Homo sapiens: one gene and its partner. The protein of the gene in region 2 binds, or shares a complex with, the protein of the main gene of each other region. Each region holds a gene or a part of one and is shown on either strand. Other genes may lie near its edges.

Region 1 (7,021 bases), on a different chromosome or scaffold from region 2:
CTGCAAGAAGGAATTCACAGGTGTGGCTGAGAGAATGGGCCCCGCCCTCCAGAACTCTGCCCAAACCCACTCCCATCACACGGGATTGGTGCTTAACAGGTGCTTAACCTGGCCTCTTCTGCTTAACAGACCTCATGACTGAGATGACCGATCTCACCAGTGACCTCCTGGGCAGCGGCATCCCCTTCCTCGACTACAAGGTGTATGCGGAGAGGATCTTCTTCCCTGGGCACCGCGAGTCGCCCTTGCACCGGGACCTGGGTGTGCCTGAGAGCAGACGGCCCACTGTGGAGCAAGGGCTGGGGCAGCTCTCTAACCTGCTCAACAGCAAGCTCTTCCTCACCAAGGTACCCCCAGCTGCATCTTCCTGGCCTGCCCCTGGCCCTGCCCCTTCTCCAGGGCATGGTTTCTGAGCCCGCCCCTCTGTCCCCCTAAACCCCTTTTCCCATCCCTTCTCTTTGGCTGCAGTTCATCCACACGCTGGAGAGCCAGCGCACCTTTTCAGCTCGGGACCGTGCCTACGTGGCATCTCTGCTCACCGTGGCACTGCATGGGAAGCTTGAGTATTTCACTGACATCCTCCGCACTCTGCTCAGTGACCTGGTTGCCCAGTATGTGGCCAAGAACCCCAAGCTGATGCTGCGCAGGTCTGTGTGGCTGTTGGGGCTGGGTGGGCCCTGGACAGCTGGAGCTGGGGTGGGGCCTCGGGCTGGGGGGTCTGCAGGATAGAGAGGCCCGCAGCCCCACCTGCTGACCCTGGCACTCCCCTTTCCCATCATCTCAGGACAGAGACTGTGGTGGAGAAGCTGCTCACCAACTGGATGTCCATCTGTCTGTATACCTTCGTGAGGGTGAGGGGGCAGAGGTGGACAGGGCTCCTGTCCAGGGAGGGTCAGGCCCTCCAAACTTCTAAGCCCTCAGCCACCATGCAGCTCGGACACTTGTGCCAGAGCAGAGACTCCTGCTCAGCCTGTCCTCAGTCCCCTTAAGCCCATGTCCTGTCCCCTTCCCCAGTGTGCGTCATGTCCCATACACCTCTGCCACCTGCTGGGGGGCCCTAACTGCCTGTGCTCTCCTAGGACTCCGTAGGGGAGCCTCTGTACATGCTCTTTCGAGGGATTAAGCACCAAGTGGATAAGGGGCCAGTGGACAGTGTGACAGGCAAGGCCAAATACACCTTGAACGACAACCGCCTGCTCAGAGAGGATGTGGAGTACCGTCCCCTGGTGAGGGTGTGCAAGTGTGTGGCCTGCAGTCTGAGTGCGGTGAGGGCGAGGGTGGAGAGTGTGTGGGTGTGTGGGGTCTGGACACCAGCTTCTGATGTGGTACCTGGATGTAGAGCTGGGTTGACCTCTGGCTGGCTCCTGGAGAGAGCCCATCAGACTAGCTTAGCAGGATAGCAGTTTAGGGCAGACTTTGATGATAAGGCCTCTATGTGCCCCAGGCTAGGGATGGAACTAGGGTAGCCACAACCAGGGTTTGGGAGAAGCCAGCCCTACCTTAGACCATGGGCTTGAGCTGTGTCAGGGCCTGACCCTGTCTGCCTGGCCCTCCTACCAGGAATGCGGCCTTGCCCACCAAGCCAGCCTCACTCTGGCAGGCACTTCTCTCTGGGTTTGCTTTCCCCTTAGTTACGCACAAGGGTTCCTGTGGGAAACCCCCATTCAGGCCTGCTGAACCCCTCCCCTGTCGGATAGGTGGGAATATTTGCTCCCGATGGTGGGAATGCAGGCTTCCCGAAACTCCGTCAGCCTGACCCATTCAGCCAGGAACCTGGGGATCTGAGTGATGAGGGACTTGTGCTCACTCATTTTTTTCTGCCATTTACCCCATAGTGGTTTACAAGTGCACTGCGCTAGGTGCTGGGGTCACAATGGGGAGGAAGCTGCTGTCCCTGGGGAAGGCAGGCAGGTGAAGAGACGAGAATTAGGGATTGTGTGGTGCGTGGGGATTGGAGGCAGCAGTTTCTCATGAGTTGTCTCTGCCCTTGGCCTGTGTCTTGGTCATCCTGAGTGCACATGAACCCTGATGGCTCCTGTGTGTCCTGCACAGACCTTGAATGCACTATTGGCTGTGGGGCCTGGGGCAGGAGAGGCCCAGGGCGTGCCCGTGAAGGTCCTAGACTGTGACACCATCTCCCAGGCAAAGGAGAAGATGCTGGACCAGCTTTATAAAGGAGTGCCTCTCACCCAGCGGCCAGACCCTCGCACCCTTGATGTTGGTGAGGGCGTGGAGAGCCCCTGGGGACCTGAGCCACTGTTGGGCCTGGGCTGGCCCCGGACCAACTCTGCAGGGACAACTCATCACTCAGGGTGGGGAGGATGCTGGGAGGCAGGCAGAAGCTGGCTTTGGAACATCTTTCTTGGACAGCCTCTCATCTGGGGAGGGGGTCCCTGCTCTTGGTCTTTGGAGAGGTTGAGTAAGGCTGCCCCATGATGGAGGGGCTGGTGTCCCTGTGGAGGAGGAGATGGGCTCCACTATGGGAAGGGTATCTTCCAGCCCTGCACCCAGTTCTGCCTTGCCCTTGCAGAGTGGCGGTCTGGGGTGGCCGGGCACCTCATTCTTTCTGACGAGGATGTCACTTCTGAGGTCCAGGGTCTGTGGAGGCGCCTGAACACACTGCAGCATTACAAGGTAGGAGGAGTGGGAGCTGGAGGAGGGCATGGTGGGGTGGGACTGGTGGAGGGATCACCAGCTGTGCTCAGCAGGTCCCAGATGGAGCAACTGTGGCCCTCGTCCCCTGCCTCACCAAGCATGTGCTCCGGGAAAACCAGGATTATGTCCCTGGAGAGCGTGAGTACCGCTCCCATCACGGTCCTCTGCCCCTGCTGTGCCCAGCCCGGAGTCATGGGGAAGGTCCTCTGGGCCTCAGGGCAGGCTTGTGCCTATTTCCATTCGGCCCAGGAAATCCCTCAACCAGGTGCCCCCACCCCTGGGAGAGCTGGCAAGAAACAGGGGGCCTGGGGAGGTGGCACCTGGGGAGGGGTGACAGCTGTGGGCTCTTGGCACAGGGACCCCAATGCTGGAGGATGTAGATGAGGGGGGCATCCGGCCCTGGCACCTGGTGAAGCCAAGTGATGAGCCGGAGCCGCCCAGGCCTCGGAGGGGCAGCCTTCGGGGCGGGGAGCGTGAGCGCGCCAAGGCCATCCCTGAGATCTACCTGACCCGCCTGCTGTCCATGAAGGTGGGGTGGGGCTGCCAAGGTAGTGGGGCCTGGGCTGAGAGGGAGCATGGCCACTCGTGGGATTTGGGGGTGGTGTGGGGCTCGTGCAGGCACAGTGCCGGGGGGTGTCTGAGGCTGGGCTGCTGCTGAGGGCCCTTTGCTGACCACACCTCTCTGCTTCTTCCTTCCCACAGGGCACCCTGCAGAAGTTCGTGGATGACCTGTTCCAGGTGATTCTCAGCACCAGCCGCCCCGTGCCGCTCGCTGTGAAGTACTTCTTTGACCTGCTGGATGAGCAGGCCCAGCAGCATGGCATCTCCGACCAGGACACCATCCACATCTGGAAGACCAACAGGTGGGGTGGAGCTGGGTGGGCTCTAGGTGTGTGTGGGGGGTCTTCTCTTCTGCCTCCCCAGCACATTCATCGGCCATGCCTGCCCCACCCGCAGCTTGCCTCTGAGGTTCTGGATCAATATAATAAAAAACCCGCAGTTTGTGTTCGACGTGCAAACATCTGATAACATGGATGCGGTGCTCCTTGTCATTGCACAGACCTTCATGGACGCCTGCACCCTGGCCGACCACAAGCTGGGCCGGGTGAGCGAGTCTGGGATGGACACGGGGGGATGGGTGAGGGTGGACAGTGCTGTGTGTGCACTCAGATTCCAGGCTTTTCTGAGAACTTCAAGGAGGGCTTAGGGGAGACCTCTGACCTCCCAAGCCAAGGCTTCATCCCGGGGCCACCTCAGTTTTAAGGGATGAGCAAGAGGAGGGGACACTGTGTGCCAATTCACAGGTGAAGTTGTGTGCAGCAAGTACAGCCTGGTGTGGCTGGGGCATAGAATGCTGGCCAGGCGTGGCAGTAGGCCAGGGCCAGTTGGTCAGGACTCACTCCTGGGGCAGTGGGAGCCACAGAAGGTCTGGGAACAGGGAAGTTATGTGACCAGACCTGAGAGTTTGGTGGAACATTGTGGCTGCTGTGCATGGATGAGCTGAGTGAGGGAGTCCCAAGAGGGCGCTGTGCTGTCCTGACAAGCAGTGGCTGGGTTCAAGCCGGGTGGGAGGGTGCAGGGCAGGCAAAAGCTGAAGGTTGGATGTGGGGGATGAGGAAGAAGGAGGGGAGTCACACATGATCCCTGGGCCTCTGGCTGTGGTAAGCTTAGACTTGGAGAAGGTGAGTCTGGTGTTTGTGGGGTTTCCAGATAGAGACATGGATTGTTCAATCCCAGAGCAGCTCTGGGCTGCTGATTGGGTTTAATTCCTTAGGGTGGTGGAGGTGTCTGCCTGCCAGTAGGGAAGTAGGGAAGAGAGTTCATGGAGTGTCACAGTTTGAGGGATGTGTGAGGAGGGGAGCTGGGAAGCACAGGAGACTGAGTAGTTGGAGCCGTCCGGGAGCACAGAGGTTGGGAGTCTATTGTCATAGCAGTCAAAGCCGAGAGTCCCCTGACATATGAGGTCCCCAAGGTGTCTGCTCAAGCACCCAGTGGGCAGGGCCCTCGTGTGACTCTGCAGGTCCATGAGTGGGGCTCTGCTTAGCCTAGACCCCCAGGTCTCAGTTGGCTTGGGACTTCTTGAGAGATACATCCCTACACCTCTGGGAAAAATCAAAATTAGCTTGGCACGGTGGCTCACACCTAGAATCCCAGCACTTTGGGAGGCTGAGGTGGGCAGATCGCCTGAGGAGCTCAGGAGTTTGAGACCAGCCTGGGCAACATGGCAAAACCCTGTCTCTACAAAAAATACAAAAATTAGCCAGGAGTGGTGGTGTGTGCCTGTGGTCCCAGCTACTAGGGAGGCTGAGGTGGGAGGATGGCTTGAGCCTGGGAGGTTGAAGCTGCAGTGAGCCATGACTACTCTGTTCACTGCACTTCAGCCTGGGTAACAGAGCGAGACCCTGTCTGAAAACAAAAACAAAAACGGAAAGTTCTGTCCAAAATTGTAGCACTGTCTTTTGGGAGCCATTTTTGTTCCACATGCTGTCATCATGCCTATAATGAGCTAAGAATCAAAGGGCCACACCAGGACCCGCAGGGCCACCTCCAGGGTAGACCCTATGTGGTGGCTGGGATTTTTGCCAGATCCTTCCAGTACCTCCCCTTCCCAGCAGAACAGCAAATGGTTCCTGGGTAGCTCAGGAGTAGTCCGAACAAAGAATGCCAAGGGTTCCCCCATGGGGAGTTGTCAAGAAGGCGCGAATCCTGACTCAGGTTGACAGAGGAGCTGGCCTTGGATCCCTGCTCATGGGGGACAGTGCCACCTCGAGATATTCTCACCTTCCCAGCAGCTCTAGGATGAGGAGAGGTCCTGAGAATAGAAGTATGCTGCCCAGAGCCCATGGCTGCTGGGACTTGAACCCAGTTCAGTTGTAGACGCTGTGTCTAGGTGTGTTAAAGTGGTGGAAACTGGACAGACCTGCTTCAAATCCTAGCTCAGCCACTGGGGAGAGAGGTGGTCTGTGGCCGCTTAGGTAATGTTCTGGGTCTGTTTGCTCATTTTTAAAATGATGACCCTGGGAGTGAACAGCATGCGTCCTGCCCTACGTACCGGGCTCTTGCTGGATCTAGATGGTGGCATGTGGAGCTGAGAAATGATTTCCGATGACATCAGAGACTGGACATTGGTGGAAGGGAGGGAGCAGCAGAGGCTCCTGCGGAAGGAAGTAGGCGAGGGTGACCACCTGTCCTGGTTTTCCGGGACTCAGGGGCTTCCTGGGATGTGAGACTTTTCCTTTTCAAAACTGAAGCAGTACTGGGAAACCCAGGACACTTGATCACTCGAACAGGGACCCTCATCCTTCCTTCCTTCCTCTTTTGCTGTCCTCCTGCTATGTCCAGGACTCCCCGATCAACAAACTTCTGTATGCACGGGACATTCCCCGGTACAAGCGGATGGTGGAAAGGTACTGGAGGGCACGGTGGGTAGAGGTTGGAGGGCGTGTGCAGCTGAGGCTTGGGGGGTGGGCTCTGGTTGGGAGCAGGGGAGTGGGCTTGTTTACCCAGCAGCTGCTGTGCCCTGGCTCTCTGGCAGGTACTATGCAGACATCAGACAGACTGTCCCAGCCAGCGACCAAGAGATGAACTCTGTCCTGGCTGAACTGTCCTGGGTAAGGCCTCCCTCTGCTTCTTGGGTTGGGCATAGGCCTCCTGCCACAACGGTCCTTCCCCCTTCACACTGCCCCTTTGCAGGGAAGCCCTTGGGAACCTCAGCAGCCCTGTGAGCTGGTTGGGGCAGGAAACATAAATGCAGAATGTTCCAACTGCCACTGAAAGACCAGGGCTCCCACCATCTCATCACAGAGCAAGCAGGGGTCTTGTCCTGGCAGCTGCCATGTACCCTGATTCAGCCAGGCTCTTGCAAGGTAGCTGGGATTCAGCCCCAGGCCTGCCTGGGTCTGCCTGCATGCGTCTTCCCACTGCTGTGCTTCCCTTGGTGGCACAGGTGTCCCCTTCACCTCTCCCATTCCTGAAACCGCCCTAAAATGTAACTCCAGGGAGTTTATGAACAATGTTTCTGAAATGTTGATGATGACAACCACAACACTAATAGCAGATATAATTTTGGGGTGTTGTGTGTGAAGCCCTTCATGGGGTGCTTTGATTGTCTTATTTGATCCTCACAAGAACTCCACAAGCTAGGTGACACCAATTCCATCGTCCAGGTGAGGAAGTTGAGGCTCAGAGATGTCCCCATGGAGGGGCCTGAGAGTGACCTCAGGAAATACTTGAGTTAGGCCAGAGCAGAATCATGCTGGGCTGTCAGCCTGCAAGTGGCATCTGTGCCACTTGGCTCTGGAGTCATCTGGGTGGCAGAGGGTCTGGGCTAGAACCTCAAGGGGGTGAGAGAGGCAGGGCTTCAGTG
Region 2 (7,708 bases):
GGAAACTACAGCTATCAGATCTGCCGCCAGAGCATATTATTAAAAAAGAAGCAAGTAGATCACATTTTAAAGTATTTTGGTAGCTGGATTTCAGTATAATTCATTTCCTTTTGAATCCTGTATTTGACTTTATGCATTTAAACACATTACTCTGAAAAGAGTTCTGTAGACCTCACCACTCTGTGAAGTTCAAAATGTAGACCAGAGAAGAAAGAAAACTATCAACAAACAATTATAATGGAAGCTGGTGCAGGCACCAAGGAAGTGACGTGTAAGGTGACATTCGAGCTGAGGAGCAGGGTGGGGGATATTAGCTCTGCCCAGGGTGCATGGGTTTGTGTTGGAGGAAATGATGCCAGGGCAGAGCCTTGACACATAAGTGGGTGTCTGCCAGCCAGCCAGGGATGCGAAGAGGTCCATGGTCTGGCAGTTGGTGACAGCAGTCACCTTAAAGGTCAGAAAGGCATTGCTGGGGCAAGTTCACTTGCTGGGGCAAGTCTAATCCAGCAGACACCAGCACTGATTAGATCAATGGTCAGATGGGGCCACATCAGCATCCTGTACACTCCCCAGTATGACGAAGGATGGCTTGGTAAACCATTCTGCATGTTCAGTGATGTGGGAAGTGCTGCCATGAGTGTGTGCACCAAAAATGGATTACACCCCTTCACCAGATTTATCTAGCACTTAGTGGTTTGACAGTTGAACGCTGTGCAGGAGCACAGAGCAATGATAACATCTCAGCACGGCCTTCATTTCTATGCTTCTGCTGGTGTGACCCCACGTTTCCAAGTGTGGCTTTAACAAAAAGAGCTCTGTGGGTCCTGTGGGGGTCTCAGTGGCAGTAAGGACATATGAGGGTGCTAGAGGTGCCTGGGGATCTCAGAGCCTTCAAAATCCCTTTCGGCTTCCTTCATTGACATGTTCTAACAATCAGGGTGCCTGACAGAGACCGGTGTGGACTCTCTATTTTGGAGAGGCTGGCCAGGAAGGCCACACTCTTACCAGCCTTTTCTGGGGTGCGGGGAGGAACAGAGCTAGGAGTAGGAGTCACAGCATGGTCTTGGCAGCCACTGCATGGTAACAGTGGAGGTGTGGCTCACCCACGTCTCTGCAGAGTGTGGTCACATTCAAAGGACATCTCCCCGGACTTTTCTAGAAGCTGCTGGCAGGTCCCAGAGCCAACCTTCCCACAGTCCCTCAGAGGACCCCGTTTCTCCACTTGCTGTGCTGACTCTCTCTCTAAGCTTAGCCTGGACACTCTGCATGCCACTACAGGTGAGAGGCGGCAGGCCGACTCTTTCTGAAGACACCTCCTCCACTGCGTAAGGCTCCACACTGGGCGATCTGGAAACGGCTCCCAGCCCACTACGTGCCTGTTCCCTCCTGCACTGCAAAGTGGAAGCAGAGGATCCTCTCTCCTCATATCCACCTGGGCCGTGTTGGAAGCTGAGTATTATTTGTGCTGCCATACTTGAGTTTTTTTCTCATATGGGACTTAACTATTATCAATCCAGTTACTATGCTCATATGCATATAGATGGTGTCAACATTCTGGCTGGGAAATGCAGAGAAACTTTGCAAAGCATGGTCTCAGTATCCAAACACTTGGCATTTCTGGGGAAACTAGGAAATAGATTGGTTAATATGATCTTTGATATGCTTGAACTTAATATTGGAGGGGAAAGTAAGGGGGTGAGAGGTAAGGCAAGATTGGAGTTCATTTAGCTACTTTTATTTTTATTTTTTGAGACTGAGTTTTGCTCTGTCGCCCAAGCTGGAGTGCAGTGGTATATGATCTTGGCTCACTGCAACCTCCGCCTCCCGGGTTCAAGTGATTCTCCTGCCTCAGCCTCCTGAGTAGCTGGGATTACAGGTTTGTGCCACCATGCCCACCTAATTTTTGTATTTTTAGTAGAGACGGGGTTTCACCATGTTGGCAAGGCTGGTCTCGAACTCCTGACCTCAGGTGATCCGCCTGCCTCAGCCTCCCAAAGTGTTGGGATTACAGGCGTGAGCCACTGCACCCAGCCTGCTACTTTTATATCTATGTTTGAAATGTCCCACGACAGAGTGTGAAACAAGAATAAAAAGGCAAGCTTGGTCACTTTGGGAGACATAGGCAATCATGCTGAGAGAAGGGAACAGGGAAGAAGGTCAGAGAGGAGGGAAGAGGAAGACCTAATAATGGCATCCAAGTCCCGGTTCTAATGGTACTTGGGGCATCTTTGGATGCAAGTGAGCCAATAGTATGGGCTGAAGTTCTATCACTTACAACTAAGAGTCCTGTCTCCTTCATGAATGCAATAAACATGTTTGGGGGCAATTTTATATAAGCACGGTGCAAAGAAGCCCTTGTGTTCGCAGCCTGGGCATTGCGGAAAGCTTTTTGGAGTTTTTACTGAATTCTCTCATGTTCTTCTGTATGCATTAGGAAACAGGCTAGAGAGGACAGTATTCTGGAAGGTCATGATGCCAGAAGTGTGGGCCCCAGGACAGCCATGCAAAGTCTCTTCTTTGCCCTGGGCTGCCCTCTATTAGATTCTGAGCATGTGGGTCTAAAAGCCAGGAGAGAATTCAGCAGTTGTTGAGAAGCATACCCCTCTGCTGCTGGTCCCCTCCCTGCAGTGTGTTCCCAAGGTGGCCCCAGGCCTGTCTAGACGCTGGCTGTGAAGGGCACGCTCCTGTAGGGGCAGCCGGCTCTTCCACAGTGAGGTCTGTCAGAAAGCGCCCACGATAGGCAGGAATCCACTTTCTCATCTAATTTCCACCCATCTGTCCTCATTCTGCCCTTCATAACACCACAGAGTAATCCTTCTTCCCGGGACAGTTTTGCACATATTGGGGTTCTTCTGTCTTGTGCTCCACACATTGATTTTCTAGGCTGAAGACTCCCGGTGGGTCAACTCCCCTCCCACGGGATACTGCTGGCTGCCTTAGACACCAAGCAAGGGCATGGTATTCTAGATGTGTCTGACTAGTGAGGAATAAAAGAGAGTCCCCCCACCCCACCCCAATCAGTGCAATGCTTGCATGTGTAGATCCTAAGCGTGCATCCCTCCTTGGGTATAGAATGCTGTTAAACCAGTTCTGTCCTAATCCGTTCCCATTATGTTTCAATCCAAATGGGATGTGGAACATGGATTCATGGACCCCTACAATTGGAAAAGAGCTTGGAAAAGACTTCTCTAGTTTTTCCTGTAATAGTCACCAGCACTGAACCCGAGCACACGGTGCAGTGGGCTTTACCTGCCATTCTCTCTCCGTGCTCCCCAAACCCTCCAGGACGACCACACTGTCCTCATGTTGCAGGGTACAGAGGTTTGCTGAGGCCTGAGGTTATTTGGAAACTGCAGAGCTGTGAGTCAAGGGAGTCTATCAGATTCCAGGTCTGGATTCTTCAGCAAGAGGGTGGTGGCTGCCATGCCGTAGAGGGAGGAGGGGGTGCGTGCTCCACCCCACCCTGCTTGACACCAGCTTTGCCATCTTAGCCTTTGCTGGGCCGAAGCCCTATTCTCAGAGCTCCGGCACTGAACCACAGAAACCACAGGAGGCCCTAGAACGGAACTCTGAGACTGTTGGGCCTTTAACTCTGTGACTGTTGGGCCTGGGACTGGCTTCATTTGTAAACTCTGGCTCTCAGAGCCAGTGCTCAGCAGGAAAACAGCCTCAGGGCCCCTGCCCCTCAACAGCAGTCTGTAGTCCAGGGAGGTATCACCTGGCCTGGAGAGGGGCTCCCCAACTCCTCACATTTAGGGGAAATCTTAGCTGGTTCCGTAAGAAACTGTGTCCCCTTCTCAGGACTGTGTTCCTCAATAGGCCTCCCAGCCTGGCCAGTCACTGTGCGAGCCCTGTCACCTCTCCTGGGGGCAGAGGGAAGAGGTCTGGATGGAGCAGCACCATCTCTGAGGGCCCCCAGATCCCCAAACCCATGGGCTAGTCACAAACAAGTCTCACCAGCAGCCTCACAGGAGGACCATTTGCCATACAGAGTGGAAAATGATGAACGTTTGGCAAAAGGCTAGCACGGGGGTTCAGGGAAACCAAGACTCCAGGTGGTGCCAGCCCCTCCCCTGGGGAATGGGAGCAGCCTGGTGTGAAATATTCTTGCCCAAAGTCAGCAGCCAAGTGTTCTGGGTGCCACGTGCCTCACGCACACTGCAGGTCAGGTTCTCAGAAGAGCTGGCCCAGGGTCTGGGGGTGAAAAAAAACTGGGGGATTTGGGGGAGGCCTGGAAAGGGTGGGGTTCATCCAGGACCCCAGAAGGGGCAAGCTTGTCTATTGAGAGCTGGTGAGGAAGAGGGTGACAGGGCACCTCTTGGTCCTGGGAACGGGTGCTTGACTCAGCAGAGACCAACCCAGGGCTGAGGGACAACCCTCTGGGCCTGGCGGGGAGGCAAGAGAGATGGGAGGTGAGGAGGAAGGAGTGGGGAGCAAAAGTGGGGAGAAGGGGAGAGAGGTGGAAGAGTGTTGCGAAGGTGAAGAAAGAGGAGGAAAAAGAGAAGGGAGGAAAAGAAAGGTTGGGGGAGGGAAAGGAGGGAGGTGAGCAGGGGCGAGGAGGAGGGAGGAGGAAGGAGGAAGAAAGGGGCGGGGCCATAGGAGGGAAGAGAAGAAGGGGGAGAGGAAGGGGAAGGGAAAGGGGAGGAGGCGGGAAGGGAGGGGGAGCGGAGGAGGGGCCTGCGCGCCCGCCCCGCGCACTCCGTCCCCGCGCCGGCCTCAGCGCTCTCGCGCGCCGCAGCATCCCAGCCGCCGCTGCCGCCGCCGGGCCTCCCCGCCACCCCCTCCCCGGCCCGGCCGCCTCCCGCCGCTGCCGCCGCCGCCGCCGCCGCCATTCCTGGCGCCCGAACTCGCCCGGCCGGGAGCCGCCGCGGGCAGGACGCGCGCTGCAGGTAAGCGGCCGGGCTGGCGCGGGAGGGAGGGCGCGCGGGGCCGGGCAGGTGCGCTGGGGGCGGCCTGGACCCTCCGCGGAGCCCCCACTCCACACCCCTAGGCTCCTCACCGGACCCTCGGGGCCCTCCCCGAACCCCTGCAGGAGCCTCCTTCTGGGATCCCCGGACCCCTGGACTCCTTCCTGGATCCCCCCGGGGCCCCTCCTGGGACGCCTCCCAGAGACACCTACCCGGACCCCTCCGACCCCCTGGACCTCTCTGCTATCCCTCCCCGGCCTTCTCCCCTTCCCGGTTGCCTCCCCAGTCCCTGCGCGCAGGTGGCTCCTCTGGGCGCGGGGGAGCGGGGGCGCGCTGCATACCCGGGCCAGGGAGGGGGCGGTGCGCTCGGCCAGGCCCCGTCGCGCCCCGGCCCGCCCAGTCCGGCCCCGCCAGGTCAGGCCCCACTCCGGCCAGCCGGGCTCTGGCCGGGCCCCCGCGGGCTTCTATTTTGGTCGCGGAGGCCGCGGACCCTGTGCACTGGACCCGGCGCCGCGCACTCAGACAGGTGGGGCAGGTTGGGCCGCAGTGGTCAGGTCGCCGCCTTGGCAGTGAGTGCTGCAGGCCTCGGTTTCCTTTCGGGTTTTGGTTGCATTATTCTAGAACAGCCCAGGAGAACCACAAGCCTTAGCTTGGGCTGCACCTGTTGCAGCCGCCTAGTGAGCTGCAAGGGGCTGGCTCTACTGGGGTTATGCCAGTAAAAACGTGTAAAGGAGAGTTGAACTCGTGGTTGTCCTCTATTTTCTGGCTTAGTATTTTGGGGGGTAGGTGGGAGAGTGGGTGAATGGGAGTCTGTAAGTGGGCAGTTTGCGTCAAATGAGGCCTGGTGTCGAGGGCTGGGTCCTGCTTTCCGGAAGGTTTTCCACATGAAGTTGCTTTGCTTTTGTTTTGAAAACCTCACTCTGTGTTGAGCACATCCCAGGCTCGTGGGTGGCCAGGCCCCCGAAGGCCAAGCTGGACGTGGGGCCTGGGGCCAAGCATCTCACCCTGCTGTTCTGAGTCTTTTCAAATCCACCAGGCGCCACGGAACGGAAGTTTCCTTTCCTGGGGGTGACGTGACACCAGTGGCCTGTCACCTCATATGTGTCCTAGGCCTGGGGCCTGCCTGCTGGCTGCCCAGGCGAGGTTATTTGGGAATGTTTACTGTGTCCCAGAAACAGGCAGCTCTGGCCAGTGCAGGGGCAGGATTCTGGTAGAGATGATAATGCCCTGATTGTCATTTTGACAGTTGGTGTCTGCGTATATCATGTCTTGGTAGTCGTCAGCCAGAAGAAGAAAGCAGGCGGGCTCAGCATACCCACCAGGGAGGCTGGGGTGGGAAGATGAGGGATGCACTGGCCTGTTTCTGTGAGCAAAGACTGCCCTCCCATAAGGCCAGACCTTCAGACTGAGAAGAGTGTACGTGGTACACTCAGCGAGTCAAACAAAGAAATAGAAACACATCACTGGTGCCAGGAGCAGCCCTGGGGTCCCAGGAGGGTGGGCCGCTTAGGAGTTGGTAGACGGTGGAACTCAGTGGCTGTATTTCAGAGTGCAGACAGGCAAAAGGCCACCGTGGGGATGCAGAGCCCCAGCTGCCATGCCAGCCCAAGGTCTTGCAGCACAGCACAAGGGAGGGACTCCATGGGAGGGGGCCCACCTCCTGAGAAGCACACCCAGAGTCTGTTGAAAATGCAGCCTTGCACAGACCCCCCTGAGTGCCTGGGGTCCTGGGCTGAGGTTTAGAGTGCAAGACCAGCGACCATGTTGCATTTGATATCCAGTGGGTCTGGGGCCAGGGAGATGTCCTTGGTGACATCATCCACTTGTGGACAGTCCTCTCCATGTGGACCGCTGGAGGCAGATGTTACCTAGAGCCGCTTTCCCCACACCAAGCGGGTGTGTCTAGGCCAAAGCTTGGGAGTGCACGCTAATGGCCAGCTTTGACTGAGGAGGGAGGGAACGTCCGCTGCTGACAGCACAACAGCAAAATCAATAATGCATTGCAAAGATCAATGGTTTTCTCTATCTTCTGTGCTTCTGCATTGAGGCTGTTCAGGCTTCTGCCTCTCTTGGTTCCATTTCTGTTGGGGAGGGAGGGATGGGCGGGTCCAGGAGGGTGGTTGCAGATTCTCCTCCTGACCCCTGGAGCCAGAGCTCCAGGGTTGGAGCTAGGACCCATGGGGATGAAACTTGCCACGTGAAAATATAGAAATAAACGTGCCGTCGGCTGATTGTCGAGCCTAGTTGCTGAGAGAAAGGCTGCTGCCTGCTGTTCCCAACCAGGGCAGTTATTTCTTCTTTGAACTTGGACAATTCCAGGAAGAAGACTAGAAGGTGAGAAGGGAGGTGGCAGAGGCAGCTGGGGTGGGTCCTCTCTTCCCTGGGCCAGGGTCCGCCCTGGGCTTGGCAGGTGCAGTTCCTCAGCCCTGCCCATTGCATCCCCATCCCCATCACCATTGCCGTCCAGGGTCCAGGGCTGCTGGAGGAGATAGCTGCTGATTCAGTCAGGTGGAGAGGGTGTGCCAGGGCCTTCCCTGGAAGCTGGGTGGTGTTTTAGGTGCACTAGTTAAGGCGATCCTTGGGATAAGCAAATTGCTTTGCTGCTTGTGGGTCACTTTTCAGCTTCTGTGACCCTCCCTGAGCGAATTTGCCTTTAGCTGGGGGTGTCACAGCAGGGGCCCCAGCTTTCTACTGCCTTGCTGCTTCCCCTGGGGCATCAGCAGCCGCCTTCCCACAGCACCTGTGCAAACCTCAGTGGGGGGCAGGCAGGGTCCTGTTATTTGGTCCAGAAGTTTCAGATG

What was found. The genes of interacting proteins can lie anywhere in the genome.
Region 1: the proteins of SEMA4D (region 2) and PLXNB1 are in contact, whole or in part, in a crystal structure (PDB 3OL2), measured with the Homo sapiens proteins. Residues at the interface, in NP_001358123.1 of Homo sapiens: Glu99, Lys100, Gly101, Phe158, Tyr179, Phe181, Leu182, Gly183, Ser184, Arg198, Tyr201, Ile203, Glu208, Val240, Leu264, Arg265, Thr266, Leu267, Gln268, Lys270, Thr347, Gln350, Ser351, His352, Thr353, Asp388, Gln392, Lys395; in NP_001123554.1 of Homo sapiens: Leu80, Pro81, Pro82, Glu87, Arg136, Pro137, Gly138, Asp139, Thr140, Tyr142, Gly178, Glu202, Lys205, Ala207, Gly209, Arg210, Ser212, Glu213, Arg235, Arg242, Asp359, Val360, Asn361, Ser362, Leu367, Pro368, Thr371, Tyr375, Ser379, Asp380.

Annotation. Positions count from the first base shown.
Region 1 is NC_000003.12:48,406,068-48,413,088, reverse strand, and holds part of PLXNB1 (plexin-B1 precursor), read left to right. Parts: coding exon 1-20; intron 21-129; coding exon 130-347; intron 348-468; coding exon 469-647; intron 648-784; coding exon 785-851; intron 852-1,079; coding exon 1,080-1,226; intron 1,227-2,052; coding exon 2,053-2,221; intron 2,222-2,530; coding exon 2,531-2,634; intron 2,635-2,705; coding exon of another isoform or gene 2,706-2,708; coding exon 2,709-2,793; intron 2,794-3,011; coding exon 3,012-3,184; intron 3,185-3,357; coding exon 3,358-3,518; intron 3,519-3,612; coding exon 3,613-3,760; intron 3,761-5,997; coding exon 5,998-6,062; intron 6,063-6,190; coding exon 6,191-6,266; intron 6,267-6,348; exon of another isoform or gene 6,349-6,521; intron 6,522-7,021. UniProt on the Homo sapiens protein: Receptor for SEMA4D. Plays a role in GABAergic synapse development. Mediates SEMA4A- and SEMA4D-dependent inhibitory synapse development. Plays a role in RHOA activation and subsequent changes of the actin cytoskeleton.
Region 2 is NC_000009.12:89,495,100-89,502,807, reverse strand, and holds the start of SEMA4D (semaphorin-4D isoform 1 precursor), read left to right. Parts: upstream 1-4,694; 5' UTR 4,695-4,889; intron 4,890-5,305; exon of another isoform or gene 5,306-5,433; intron 5,434-7,151; exon of another isoform or gene 7,152-7,241; intron 7,242-7,708. UniProt on the Homo sapiens protein: Cell surface receptor for PLXNB1 and PLXNB2 that plays an important role in cell-cell signaling. Regulates GABAergic synapse development. Promotes the development of inhibitory synapses in a PLXNB1-dependent manner.